4 linked regions of the Homo sapiens genome follow. The protein of the gene in region 4 interacts with the protein of the main gene of each other region in a biochemical or structural test. Each region holds a gene or a part of one and is shown on either strand. Other genes may lie near its edges.

Evidence for each region.
Region 1: the proteins of NHERF2 (region 4) and TNRC6B interact in a test that uses a peptide from one of them, tested with the Homo sapiens proteins (one large-scale study listed by IntAct).
Region 2: the proteins of NHERF2 (region 4) and APPL1 interact in a test that uses a peptide from one of them, tested with the Homo sapiens proteins (one large-scale study listed by IntAct).
Region 3: the proteins of NHERF2 (region 4) and TMEM151B interact in a test that uses a peptide from one of them, tested with the Homo sapiens proteins (one large-scale study listed by IntAct).

What each region holds. Positions count from the first base shown.
Region 1 is NC_000022.11:40,261,425-40,264,924, reverse strand, and holds part of TNRC6B (trinucleotide repeat-containing gene 6B protein), read right to left. Parts: intron 3,094-3,500; coding exon 2,752-3,093; intron 238-2,751; coding exon 1-237.
Region 2 is NC_000003.12:57,269,229-57,272,728, forward strand, and holds part of APPL1 (DCC-interacting protein 13-alpha), read left to right. Parts: exon of another isoform or gene 1-312; coding exon 313-459; 3' UTR 460-3,500. UniProt on the Homo sapiens protein: Multifunctional adapter protein that binds to various membrane receptors, nuclear factors and signaling proteins to regulate many processes, such as cell proliferation, immune response, endosomal trafficking and cell metabolism.
Region 3 is NC_000006.12:44,269,074-44,273,249, reverse strand, and holds the start of TMEM151B (transmembrane protein 151B), read right to left. Parts: upstream 2,801-4,176; 5' UTR 2,508-2,800; coding exon 2,373-2,507; intron 185-2,372; coding exon 1-184.
Region 4 is NC_000016.10:2,029,902-2,033,401, reverse strand, and holds part of NHERF2 (Na(+)/H(+) exchange regulatory cofactor NHE-RF2), read right to left. Parts: intron 109-3,500; exon of another isoform or gene 51-108; coding exon of another isoform or gene 1-50.

The DNA.
Region 1 (3,500 bases), on a different chromosome or scaffold from region 4:
GCAGAGTGCTCTTCTCAGAGCCAGGGTTCGAGGCACTGTTGTTATCGGTGGTGTTTTCGGAAGAAGATTCAGTGTCTTTGCTGGCAATACAAGGCCACTCTTCCATGTCAGACCCGTCTACAATCACCTTGTCCCAGATGTGAATTGGGTTGGGGGAGGTGCCGTTGTTGGAGGAGGCTCCCGAGCCCCAAGTGGAATTTGCATAATTTGAAGCAGCAGCACCTCCAAGGGTTGAGTCTGGGGAACAGATCATCTTATTAATCACAGCTTCAAATGCATTCATTACCCATTAATCCCTCAAAGGGGCTCTCCTTTGAGCTCTGCCCTTAGGAGAGCTGATCACATGCCAGTTTCTCTCAACCCAGTTGCTTGTATCACAACTGTCTTAGTCATCTCTTTTTTTTCATTTGCCTTGTGTTACACCGGTTAAGTCTAACTTCATCTCTCTCAAAGCTACGTCCTTTGCCATTCCTATTGACAGAGAAGGGCCTTCTTGTATCTTGGGACAAGGCAATAGCAATGGCACTCTAAACTTGCTCTGTATCTTCAACCTACTCTAAACACCCCTGGCTGGAGCAATCTTTCTAAAGCACACTTTTGATTATATCACTGCTGTATGGAGAACCTTCAACAGTTCCTTAGTGCACAAGAATAAAGCTGAACTCCTTGGCCTCGAATGTCATCAAGATGTTCCATGACCTGGGACCAACCAACTTTTCTAGTCTTATCTTCTACTACCTCCTATGTAGATGTCAATATTCGATACTACTTGACATTCCACAACTTGTGCCTTCTCACTCTGGCACCATTTCACGTTGGCACCTACTGTGTTTTCCTGCTGAATTCACACAGTGAAATTTACTCATCCTTCTGGGCCCAATTCAAGTGTCATTTCATCTGCGAAGCTGTTTTCAAGCTCATCACCTGAAAATAATCTTTCCCTGTCTAGAGCCATTTTGCTCAGTGCTGTGGCACCATGTTCACAACTTTCCTTCCCCATGTTAGCGTCTTTTAGGCAGAGACCCTAACTTGCTAACGTTAGAATTCCACACAGCAGCCAGCACAATGCTGCGGAGTAAGCATCTGCTGAATGATGAATACCCACTGAGCCACTGAGCTAGGTGCCCAGGGTGGCAGGGGTGTCACATGAGTATGAATTAGGCAGAGTTCACAACCCCAAGGAACTTAATCTGTTAAATGAGTCTGGCTCACCATATATTTTGGTGGAATTTACCATATTTGGTGGGAAAAACATGTTTTTAATGAGATCATTTCTTCTAAATTTATTTTGGCTTCTTTAACCAGGCAGCTTTTAATCAATTTGAAGTTTCAAAAAGTATTATACGGAGGCATAGAAAAATAAAAAGCATAGAAACCGAAACTCGAGATTTAGGGGCCTCCTCCGTTTTAATAATGTGGACTCTGACTCACACTGGACCCCAGTCTCCACCTAGGCCTGGCTACACTCGGCTGCAGAAACTCCGCCTGACAGGGCCTGCCCCTTCACATGCTTCCTTTTGCAGCTGGTTTGGAGAGCCAGGAAGGAAAGGCCATGGGTAGGGCTTATCTCTGCAGGAAGTCTGTGTCACCACGAGGTTTCTTTCCATCCTTACTCTGCACACAGCAAGATGGTGACCAAATTTTCTAGGCAATTATTTGTTTAAACTCAGAACTCAAATAAAGCATCCTACTGGTGACAACCATCAATTCATTATCTTTGCCAATGCCTAATGGTATTCAAGCTCTGAATTTTAATATCACCCCAAAAGACATTTTAAGTTGAAATCTGTTAATAAACTTTAAAAGATATTTAGAATTTCTTAGCTGTTAGTTGACTTAGTATTCATCTATTAAAAACTCTCACAACTTTTTTTTTTTTTTTTTTAAGACGGAGTCTGGCTCTGTCACCCAGGCTGGAGTGCAATGGCGCGACCTCGGCTCACTGCAAGCTCCGCCTCCTGGGTTGACGCCATTCTCCTGCCTCAGCCTCCCGAGTAGCTGGGACTACAGGAGCCCGCCACCATGCCTGGCTAATTTTTTTATATTTTTAGTAGAGACAGGGTTTCACCATGTTAGCCAGGGTGGTCTCGATCTCCTGACCTGGTGATCCACCCGCCTCGGCCTCCCAAAGTGCTGGGATTACAGGCGTGAGCCACCGTGCCCGGCCAAAAACTCTCAAAACTTCTAGTAGAACCTTTCAGCTAAATATCCCTTATTTCTACATACAGTTTTTAACAAAGCTCAAAATCCAGGGCCCACAAAAAGAAATACTGAGTTTAAAAATCTAATTTAAAAACTATAGTATTATTTTAGAATCCTCCGAAGATTCTATATTGCAATGTAGCAAATCATTTTCTCTATCCTCCTAGCATTCTGGAAACATAACACAGGCATCTAAAGATTCGCCTTCGCACAAGCCCCATGTCCAATTATGCCCTGAACACATATGACGGTGGAACTATGGAGGCTCAAATTTGTAACACTCTAGTCTGAGAAGGAAAAAAGGCCCCCAAAATAATAAGCAACAGCAGTTAAGTTAGCCCTTATGCCAAGAGCACACACTTACGGAACACTAAACCTCAGTTCCAAGAATCACCAATACACATCGCATACTAGGATCCTCTCTCATCTTTTGACTAATCCCAGTGGTTTATATAATGAATGGCTTTCCTGGACTTTACATCAAGCAATGCAAACAAAGTGCTCTCTCTCTGTCAAGCTGCCATGCATTCGATTCACAGGGTGCCTTACCTGGCGCAGTCCCACTCTCACTCTGCAGCAGCGCTCCTGTCACTTGTGCGTTGTTTGGGTTTGCTCCAGGTGCTGTGCAGGGAGGAGGCCCTGCCCCACCCCCAAGGAGCATGCAGGACGGTGGAGGGGGCTGCCCACGTTTTAGTAACACTTTGTGGTCCTGCTGGCAACGGAATCGCGGCGGCACCTCCCGAGGCATGTAGCGGGCGGCGCTTGGCGGTTGTCCGTTCGGCACTGCCACCCTTTTGGCATTGTTGCCACCATTGACTGGTGGCGATGGAGAGCTGCCAATTGGGCTGGCGGCCGTTGGTTGGCTTAAACTTGGTTTCGTCACTTCGGGCACTAAAAGAGAGGGGTTGGGAAACAGTCTTTGAAATACATCAAATACATTTTTTCTAAAAATTTTAAAAATAATTTTATTATTTTATTTAGAGATGGGGTCTTGCCATGTTGCCCATGCTGGTCTTGAACTCGGGCTCAAGGGACTCTCCCACCTTGGCTTTCCAAAGTGCTAGAATTACAAGAGTGAGCCACTGTGCCTGGCCAAGATTATTATTTATTTATTTATTTATTTATTTTTGAGACGGAGTCTCACACTGTCACCCAGTGTGAGTGTCGCCCAGGCTGGAGTGCAGTGGTGCAATCTCCGCTCACTGCAACCTCCGCCTCCCAGGTTCAAGCAATTCTCCTGCCTCAGCCTCCCAAGTAGCTCGGATTACAGGCGCCCACCACCAAAACCAGCTAATTTT
Region 2 (3,500 bases), on a different chromosome or scaffold from region 4:
GATCCCTTTCGAGGGTTTTACTATAATATATAGTGAGAGATGATTGATGATGGGCTTTATTTGGTTGTTGGTCATAAAAAAAGAAAGATAAAATATTAGATTTTAGTTTGAATGCTGGCTTTTATAGGATGGTGCCAAAATTCATTTTGGTGTTGTATTGTTTGGGTGTAGCTTTTCTTTTTATCAAGTTGTCAGAAGTATGCATACATATTTATGACAGAAGAAGTGGCTCTCAAGAATGTATCTTAACTGCATAATTTGCCATTTGACTGCAGACAAGTAACTTAGTTTCTTTTTTGTCTTTTCCACTAGGACTTGGAAGAACAAAGTCGGTTGATAGCTGCTTCCAGTAGACCAAACCAAGCCAGTAGTGAGGGGCAGTTTGTTGTCCTTAGCAGTAGCCAGTCAGAAGAGAGTGATTTGGGAGAAGGAGGAAAGAAGAGAGAATCAGAAGCATAAGCTTATACTTTTGGTAGATATTCCCCCTTGGAATTTGACAGTTTCTATGGTGAAATGGCAGAAGGTAACAACTATGTTGAAATATCAAGGAGGAGATTAAGCTTTATATTTGCTTATTTGTTGTAGCTACATTTTAAAAAAAAGATTGAACTTGATGACTTAGGTTTGCATTGATCTTTTTTCCCCCTTAAACATAATGTACTATGTATTAACATCTAAAGGAAACCTGCTCATCTCCCTGAAGCAGACTGCTGAGGAATTACATTTGCTCAAGAATTTTTTCCGTCAAATTGTGAACTTTTAATTCTTGCATTGTAATTGGCTGTGTCCATAAGAAATCATTTATTCTTCAGGCTTAGACATTCATGGATATGCTTTTCTTTCATTAGGAACATTTTGCTGGTGATGAGGAAGCATTTAGCTGAATAAGTTTAAAGCCCTTTATACAGAGAATTCTACAAGTTTGCAAATATTTTAACAATATTAAATGTGCAATAGAACTTTTATAAAATAATTAGAACAGAGATTTTACAGTTAAGGTTTCAAATTGTGGCAGGTGGTACTGTTGATCTCAGGGTACTTTCTGGGATTGCTCACATTTCTCTAATGTACTGCACTTGATGCCAGTAGGAAAGAAGCTTAAGTGTCTTCAGTTCAAGATTGATAGAGCCCTTGGCATTTTATTATCACATTCTTAGTTCTCAGGTTGGGACTTCAATTACTGCTGCAGAGCAGTAGTGGTTAAAAATAAGATATTGGAATTTATTAAAAGATTTTTGTTCAATACATTTTAGATTAGGATTGACAAGTAAAGATACTGCTATGGAATGATACATTGTATTTTCTGCATTGTGTGAAATAGTTTTTATTGAAAGTCAAGTGACATTTCAAAAGAAGTTCTATAACAATTATGTTTCATGCTTAAAGTAAAAATTCCCAGAGTTTAGTTTAGAAAATGTAATCTTTTAAATTTCAGACTGATATATTCCCAGTATTTTCATAATGCCATGTTTTGATAAAGTACTGAATCACCACTTTATATCCACAAAGGCAAATAACTAATGTATGATAATAGAATAATTTGCACTAATTATTGTAAATATGTCTACTCTTCAAATGAGTAAAAGGTCCAATTTTGTGAAAGATTGAAAATGAATTGAATGCCTAGTAGAGTATAGGAGAAGTTGACCAAGGAAGGATTTAACCTGGTGCCAAGGTTAAAATAACATTTCTCTACTGCCTATTGTTTATGTTAAACCTTAATTTTTTTTCTGTAATCACTTTTAACACTGCTAATAGAAATTATGTTTTCATGTGTTTCACATGAAAAAGTATATATATACAAAGTTAATATAGTGGGTAAAATACTTTACATAGTCACACATTTACAAATTTTTCAAGAGGTTAGCCACTAAGACTTTAATAATTTTACAAGGGAAAAAGCCTTTTTTTTTCTTTGATATACAGTTTTTTCTTCTTAGTTCTGCATTAGAAATGGCATCTGTTTTAGGTCTCAAAATATAACTCAGCTGTTTCACACTGTATATGTACATTGTTTTCTGTAGGAATAGGATAATGATATATAGGATCATGATATTCCTTCTATCCATGTGCCAAATGGGTGTAATGTTTATTTACTGATGCTTTATGTTACCAAAACATACAGTAAAAAAGTAGAAATTTATGAAATACTTTTGATAAAAAGTTTATTTTGTGCTTACCAAAAGGAATGCTTTCACAATAGTGTATCAGTTCTTTTGTTTTGTTAAAGTTGGAATTTATTCTGTTGCCAGCATTTAAGTAGTCATGGCAAGTCCTGTTTTTAAGACCTTTTGGAGACTGGAGCTTTCTGTTCCATTAAGTCTTTTGTTTATACTACAAATTGTCACCTCACTTAGTTCAGATGAAATCTGTTACTCTACAAGGAAGGTGTTCATCATTAGGAGGCAGCTTTACTAAGCTGGTGCTTTGCATGGTAGCAAGTGCTGCCCTTTATCAGCACCCTGGGTCATAGTGTAGGCTAGAGTTAAGGCACTGGCAGACTTAGGGATGCTGGACAGACCTGTAGTTCGTTTTAAGTCATGTTCACAGGAATTTCTACAATAATAAACCCATCATCTCCATAGGTCAGATCGAAGTGCATTCCAATGCTAAATAGAAGTTATGAGTGGGTTTAACAATTTTAGATGATTCAGCTTTTGTTCCATTACTGTTGAACTATATGAACTATTCCATTACTGCAGAGATTTAAGTATCTGTTTTAATAAGCTCTTTTTGTTATTTAAAGGCTGCCCATGGGTTTCTGCCTAGTGGTAAAGCTGATTGTTACCCTCCTTTGAAATCCCTTCTAGTTCTGAGATGCTTTGAGGGTAACTGGATTCGATTTTGGGATATCTTTTCTCACATTCAGACTTACACTTAATGGTGTTAGAAATCAACAAAACTCCTTTTTAAAAAGAAAAGATATTAAGCCTGCCTACTTCTACAATGCATTCTGTTACCTATTTGAACAGTATGTTTGTAACTATGGCAATGAAGTCAGTAGATAGGAAACCAGTTATTCCTTCTACCTTTAAAAATTTTGAGAACTTGCCAACCAGGGATTAAAGCTATTATCTTGAACAGAGTCCCTAAAGCTAGTCTAGTTTTTGCCACATCTGCAATGATTATTGTTTAATTTCAAAAGAATCCTCAGGCTCTACAATCTAGGGGTGGTAAATGTGTTTCCACTATACTTGGGAAAAGGTCAGTAGGATGTGCATCCTAGGGAAGATAAAATCGTATATGGTAAAGGCATTTGAGTTAATTTTGCATTATATCTAGGAACCATATTATTTAAAATTTGAATCCTATTAATGCTGAGAGATCCTAAGAGCTAGTATGTTGTAAAACCTGCCACCTGAATAAAATGAAAAAAAAAGTGTTTTTTTGAGACAGAGTCTTGCTCTGTTGCCCAGGCTGGAGTGCAGTGGTGTGATCTTGGGTCACTGCAAACTCCGCCTCCCAGGTTCACGCCATTCTCCTGCCTCAGCCTCCCGAGT
Region 3 (4,176 bases), on a different chromosome or scaffold from region 4:
GGCTGTCATGGTACATGAGGCTGTTGCCCTGGTAGGCGCTGCTGAAGGTGAGGCGCGTCACTGTGGTGACGTGGCACCAGGCCACTGCCCCCAGGCAGCCGTACATGAGCAGCGAGAGCAGGAGGCACTTCCAGTGGGACTCACGGCAGAGGGACTTGGTGAAAGAGGGCTGGATGGGACGCTGCTGCTCAGGTGGGCAGGGAGAGGGGCCAAGATGAGTGGGAAGTGAGAGCAGGCAGGACCCAGCACAGAGATGGATACGGGGATGGAGGGGCAGAGGCCAGCACCAGAGATAACAGGCAGAGAGAAACAGGGATATGGAGAGAAAAGGTGAGACCAAGATGGGAGCCAGGGGCCAGAGGTAGAAACAGAAGTGACACAGAGCAAGCCAGAGGACAGGAAAGGGGACCGGAATGCCAGTACAGGAGAGTGCAGAGAGAGACACCCCAAGAGGCAGAGAAGGATCAGAGCCAGAGATAGAGGCCCAGGCAGCAAACACAGATGGATAGGATGGTACCCAGAGAGCATCCGAAGACAAACACAAAAATGGCAATGAAACAGAAGATGTGGACAGGGAAGACAGGGGAGGACAGACAGACAGGCATCAGCGAAGGAAGGTCCCCAGCCCAGACCCCTTCCAGGTCCTCTAGAAAAGGGGGAGGGACCCACTGACATCACTTCCCCACTTAACAAGTGGGGCCCTCACTTCCAGATTTTTTTCAGTCCTAGGTTCTAGAGGAGCTACTCCCCTCTGACCCATCCACCTCCCTAACCCTCACAATTAGCCTAACACGTCCTTTGGATAAGGGCCTCCAGAGAACCCCAGGCCCAGTCTCATTCCCCATGTTCTGGACCCTGGTTCCCCTGTGAGTCTCCCTCCTGCACCCTGACATCCTTCCCTTTGTCCTAGGATGGGAGGGAGGGGGCTGGGGTCCCTGAGCGGCAGGCAGTCCAGGAGGAGGTATCCAGAAGGGCAGAGGCATGTGGCTGAGGAGAGGACAGGCATAGGGGATGTGGGACTGGGGTAGCGAGGACAACGTTTGAAGCCCAGCAATTTATCAAGAGAAAATTATTTTTGGTACTCTCCTGGAGCCTGTCTGTTAAAGCTCCTGGCACATTCTGTCCCAGGGTTGGCCCAGGAGTTGTTTACATGTCTGGCTCCCCACTACACTGGGTACTCCTGAGGGCCCATGCTTCATTCTCTTTGCATCCTAGGTGCCTACCATGGTGCTGGCCCCCAGCAGCCACATCCTAATTGAGTGTTGAGTTTAATTTCTTGTAGTGGCCTCTGTTTTCCCACCCCTCCTCTGTGCTGTCTAGCTTTAGGAACCCATCCCCCACCACACACACACACACACACACACACACAACCTCCTGCTGGGATCCTGACTTACCCCCTCAATTCCTCAGGCCTGACCTAGAGGCCAGCCAGGAAAGAGAGGAAAAGAGTGGAAAAGAAGGGTACAGTAATAGGCATCGGTCCCTGGATCTAGAAGTATGGATAGTTAGGCGAGCTAGGAAATAGCACACAGTACATGTGGACAAGGAGATTAGGGTACATGTGCCTTTCGGGGAGCCTTGTCCTTAGGAGGTATGAACATACGGGCCCCTTCGTGTGCCTACCTGGTTATGTGCTTGTCCCCATGTGGGTACCTCTGAAAGGGGCTTTACCTGCAGGCCCATCCCCGCTTGTGTGCCTCTGCCCTAGTACAGGGTGCATGCGTGTGCACAAGTGTGCATGGGAGGCTGGAGTGGGGGTGCTCCTGGTACTTTCCTCCGTCTCTTTGTCTTCAGGTTCAGAGGACTGAGTACTAGGGACCCCAACTAGGGATATGAGGAAGCAGCAGGAGCCTCGTGAGAGAGAGGTGCACACCCCCCCCCACACACACACACACACACTCCCAATGACCACAGGCGGGACCCCCCGTACACATCTGACCTCCTTAGGGTCCCAGATCAGGTACCACCACCACTTCCCCATGGTACCCTCCTCGTTCTGTAGCCCGTACAAGCCGCCCTTCCTGGCCTTCAAGGTAGCATCCTCCTCTGTGAGACAGGATCCCCGCCACCGTCCCCACCCCGGTAGAGCATAGCCCCCACTCTCATAAGCCCAGGATCCGCGAGGCTCCGCCCCTAGGCCCCTCCCCCTGCCCGGGACCCCTGAGCCCCGCCCCCGGCGCGGCCCCTTCCCCGGCACCGCGGACAGCTCCGGCCGCCGGGTGGGGGCGGCGGCGCGGACTGCGGCTGCAGCGGCCGGCTCGGGGTGCGGGGCGCCGGCCGCGCTGCGGCGGAACCAGCGGGGGACGCGTGCGATGGGGGATGGGGGGCCAGGCTGCGGCCGCGCCCGGGGAAGGGGCGCCCTAGACTCTCACCTCCTCTCGGGCGGGGCCCTCGTCCGCCGCCGCCGCTGCCGCCGCCGCCGTGAGCTCCTCCGAGACCCCGGGGCCGCCACCGCCGCCGCCGCCGCCGGCGGCGCTCTCTCCCGCGGCCGAGCCAGGGGGGGACATGGCGTAGAGGGGGCGCGTCGAGCTCAGGACCTCCCGGGGGGCTGCCAGGGGCCGGGGGCATCCTGCGCGGGCCCTGGGGAGAGGACGGGAGGGGGCGGGGCCCTCGCTGCTCCCCACCCCCCGCCGGGGGAGGGGGCCCGGAAAGGGCACCGGGAGTAAGGGGCTGGGGGCTGAGGGTGGGAGGCAGGCTGGGGGGCCGGGCCGGGGGGGGCCGGGGCCGGGGGCGGGTGTCACCTTGAGGCCCTCGCGGCGCCGCTCCGCCTCCCGCCCGCTCCCGCCGCCGCCTTTTGTCTGAGCCGAGCTGGAGCCAGCGCGCCCCCCCTTTCCTGCCAGCGCAGCCGAGCCCCGCCCCCAGCCCCCCAAACTCCGCCTTCCCAAGCCTACCTAATAACCACCCCCCGAAGGGGTAAAGCAACAGGGACTCCCCACACCTCTTCCCCGCTCCCAGCCCTGCTCACTGCACCTCCCTCCCGCGCTCCTATCCTGGGAGAATCTGTGCCGCAACCCCTCTCCATCTGTTCTCCGTGGACTCGGTGCCCGAGGTTCAACCAACAGCACCCCCCCACACACACACACATCTCTGGTTCCCCCAAGTTCCCAGGGCAGAGGAGTGGGGAGAGGAAATTGATTCTTGGAACCCTAGGGAAGATCCTTACTCCCAGTTTCGTGGTGAAGGGTTAAGGCAGAAGCTAGACTTCCAGAGGAATGGAATAGGGGGAAAGGGAAGAGATTGAAGCTAGATGTGGGAAAGGACTAACAGAGGGCAGAGGGGAGGGCATTGGAACCGGCCTTCACTGAACCATCTTTCTTCCCTAAAAGAACAGCTCCAGAGAAGCAGTGAAGTGTGTGCAATACCCTAGGCTGGAGGGCAGGAAACCTGAGTTCTAATTCTGAATTCTGTATCTGTCATTAAGGAGTTATGTGACCTTGGGCAAGTGCCTTCCTGTCTCTGAGCCTTAATTTCTTCATCTGTGCAGTGAGGAAGTTGACTGGACAATTTCTAAGGCTCTGACTTGTAGGTGTAGGAAGCAAGCCAGGCTGAGCCACTGCAGGCAGCCTATCCTTTCAGGCCATCCACCCCACACTGCTTTTCCCTGTATCCCCTGGCACAGCAGGAAGGACCCTGACATTTATTCATTCATTCATTTCTGGATGTCTCCATTCAGTAAACAGGTGTTGGGTACCTATTGTGTGCCCAGTACAGAAATGAAACACAGTTTCCTTCCTGCAAGGAGCACAAAGTCTAATGGGGAGAAAAGAACATGAAAAACAACCATTATGAAGAATATAATAAAAGCCATGCATGATCAATCTTGTGCATACACAGTCACTGTGGAATCCTACTATGTGTCATTAGAGTCTTTGACATACAGTAACTGTTCTCCCCAATTACTCACAGGGAACCAAGGCAGAGGGAGAGTGAATGGCTTACTCAAGGTCACCTGCTAGCACTCACAGAGCTAGTCCTAGAATTCAGATCTTTCCCACTCAAAATCTATGGGGAATATTTGTGGGTAGGAAGTTAGTTTGGGGCAAAGCCTCGATGTCTGATTTTGGGGGATAGGGTACAAACACACTGATCTGCCCAGGATGTTCCTTCCCCTTGTTGGGGACAGGAGAGCCACTGCTCCCACCCCTCTAGTCCCACTCCTGGCCCTGCCTTCATTTT
Region 4 (3,500 bases):
GGGGCTCCCGGAGCCCGGGCAGGTGGCGTGGCACTCCCGGAGCGTGCCATGACAGCGGCACAGTGACAGCAAGTGGCAGGCGTCCGGCCGGGGTGGCCTGAACTCTCTGGCCGACCCAGGCTGCCACCCCACTTATCTACCTCCCTCTGCGGCCCTGGCTCCCCGGGGATGGGTGGGGACGTGGGGGCTGAGTCACTCTGGGGAGCAGGGTGATGACTGAGCCCGCTCCCCTGCGAAGGCTCCAGCCTGGCGCCCCCCACCCAGCTAGGCTTCCGTCCCAAGAAAGGAAGGAAGGAAGCTGCTGGAAGGCCCTGCCCTGCCCCAGGACCCAGGGCTGAGGGGACAGGGAGGAGTCCCGGCCCCAGAACACAGGACGGTCCTGTTGAGGCTCCAGAGGAGCAAGAGCCAGGGAAGCCCGGAAGCCCCCGCAGGCACCGCGCCCCAACCACACAGCCGCCTCCCGCAGAACTGTCACCCCTCACACCTGCTCTTAGCCCCCAAGGCCCTCCAGATGGGGGTGGAGACATGGGCTAGGGGCAGGGGGCAGAGGGCTCAGGGTCTGCCACCACCTCCAGGGCCTGGCACCGCTGGCCACCCCGTCTCTGTTTGGGGGCTGTCCCCTGTCGTCACTACTAGGATCAGCTGCACTGCAGCTGCGGCCACCCCCAGCCTGGTGTGGCCCAGGGCTGAGTCATCACTAACTAGGCCTTCACGGCCCCCAAAAGGAGGGGCCAACCACATCAGTGTCCTCCCCTGCCCACCTCCCCTATCCCCAGCCAGGACAGAGGACACTGAGAGCCACCCTTAGCTCCCAGGGGGCACCCAAAGTTGGGCCCTCTCCATCCTTCACCAAAGACAAACTACACACATCCCTTCCAGAGCTCTGCCTCTCTGCCACCAGTGCCCCCACTGGAGCCATCCCCGCAAGGTAAGCTTTGCCCTCCTGGGCTCCCTGACCATCTGAGGCATGCCCTGAACCCAGGCTGAGAAGGGCAGGATCTGAGCCTGCTCTGTGGAGGTCAGGTGAGGCCCACCTCTTCCTGCCCATGCTGGGAGCTCAGGTGAAGAAACCTCAGGTCCTGAGCCAGGCGCAGGGGCTCACACCTGTAATCCCAGCACTTTGGGAGGCTGAGGCAGGCGGATCACTTGAGCCCAAGAGTTTGAGACCAGCCTGGCCAACACGGTGAAACCCTGTCTCTACCAAAAACACAAAAATTAGCCAGGTGTGGTGGTACACGCCTGTAATCCCAGCTACTCAGCAGGCTGAGACATAAGAATTGCTTGAACCCAGGAGGCGGAGCTTGCAGTGAGCCGAGATCGCACCACAGCACTCCAGCCTGGGCGACAGAGTGAAACTCCGTCTCAAAAAAAAAAAAAAAGAAAGAAAGAAATGAAACCTCAGACCTCAGGGGCCGGGTACAGTGGCTCACACCTGTAATCCCAGAACTTTGGGAGGTCGAGGAGGGCAGATCACCTGAGATCAGGAGTTCGAGACCAGCTTGAGCAACATGGTGAAACCCCGTCTCTACTAAAAACACAAAAATTAGTCAGGTGTGGTGGTGCGCGCCTGTAATCCCAGCTACTGGGGAGGGTGAGGCAAGAGAATCGCTTGAACCCAGACAGCGGAGGTTGTAGTGAGCCAAGAAAGAAAAAGAAAAAGAAACCTCAGGTCTTGATGCCAGAAGAGAGAAGGGGAGACCCTGTTCCTTGGGTGCCCCCTGACCTCCTGGAGCCCCTGTCCCCAGCCAGACTCATGCACAAAGGGACCTGCCACTCAGGCCACCCTTTGTTCCTCTAAAAATACACCCAGAGGAAGCCCCTCCTAGGGCTTCCTGCAGCCCCCAGAGCCTGAAATAGCAGAGGGGGAAGGTCCCACCCAAGGCAAGGTGCCTGGGCCACTGCACCCTCCAGATAAAGTCCGAGGGCCGGATTTTTCCACAGGAAGGTGAACCATGCGTTTGTGTCCAAATCAATGGACAAACGCCTGAGGCAGAGGGGGAGCTTCCTCCTGGGGGAGGGAAGGTGGCTGGGAAAGAGGGAGGCCCCAACCCTCAGCCTGGAGACAGGGGCTTAGGACCAGCCAGCCCCCCTGCAAGGCCAGCCCCCCCACCAGCCCTGGGCTGGGCACCTTGGCCCTGAGCACCACTGTGGCCCGCCCTCAAGCCCCAGGAACAAAACGGGTCCCACAGGTCCCACGGGCAGGCCTGCGCCCAGGCTGGGCTCCCCACAGGGAATGCTGTCTCCCTGCCAAGCCGCTCCCCCCGGGCTCAGCTCCTAGGGGCAGCCAGCTTCAGCAGTGACGTCTGGGAAAGGGAGAAAGTGAATGTGTATATCCCCTGCACCCTCAGAACTCCAGATCCCACACCCCTGCCCCAAGCGCGGTTCTCACAGTGGGGTCTGGCCAACCCCTGGACTCATATCCCCTGAAGGGATTTCTTTCTTTTCCTTTTTTTGTTTTTTTTTGAGACAGTCTCACTCTGTCGCCTAGGCTGGAGTGCTATGGCGGGATCTCGGCTCACTGAAACCTCCGCCTGCCGGGTTCAAGCGACTCTCCTGCCTCAGCCTCCCAAGTAGCTGGGACTATAGGCGTGCCCCACCATGCCCAACTGATTTTTGTATTTTTAGTAGAGACGGGGGTTTCACCACATTAGTCAAGCTGGTCTCAAAATTCCTGACCTCAGGTGATCCACCCATCTCAGCCTCCCGAAGTGTTGGGATTACAGGCGTGAGCCACCGCACCCGGCCAGGGTTCTCTTTGAAAATGAAAAAAAAAAAAAAAAAAAGGTAGGAGAGAACATGGAGATAATGCCATCAGGGCCTCCAGGAAGATAAGACAGACAGCTTCAGGCTGTTCCTCCTGGTCCCCAAGGCCTGCCAGGCCGCCCCTCCCAGTCGGCCACCTAGCAGGAGGTGGAGCAGGCCGCCCCTGTACTTTTCTGGGTCTCCTGGCTGGGAGCAAGGGCAGGGGAAGGAGGAAGTACTACCCAGCAGGAGTCCAGGAGGAACAGCAGACAGGGTCCCAGGGCCCTCCCTTGTATCTAGGGGGAGGAGTGGGCTCACCCTGGAGCCTCCTGGACCCCCAACTCCACTCCCATGCTCCCAGCCCCACCTACGCCAGGCCTGGCAGAGTGGCCTCCTAGGCTTCCCCAACCACGGCGCTGCCTGTGGAGAAGGCCGGCCCTCTCCCAGGCCTTCCCAGCATGCAGGCGCCTTCAACAGAGACAAAGACAGAGCCACGGATGACACCCAGCACAGGCACAGAGCTGCGCACACGCAGACCTGGAATGCCTCTTCCCAGGGTTCCTCAGCCACGAGGCTGGGGGCTGGGGAGGCGGCAGCTTGTCAGAGTGACCCCTCGATAGGGCAAGTGGCTCTGGAGCATCCTGGAGAAGAGGAACAGGCCAGGCTGCCCTGACCCTACCCAGTTTAAAACACAGGCTGAGGGTAGAAACAGTGGCCCCCAGTGGCCAACAAGATGGTCCCTGGGGCAGAAAAGGAGC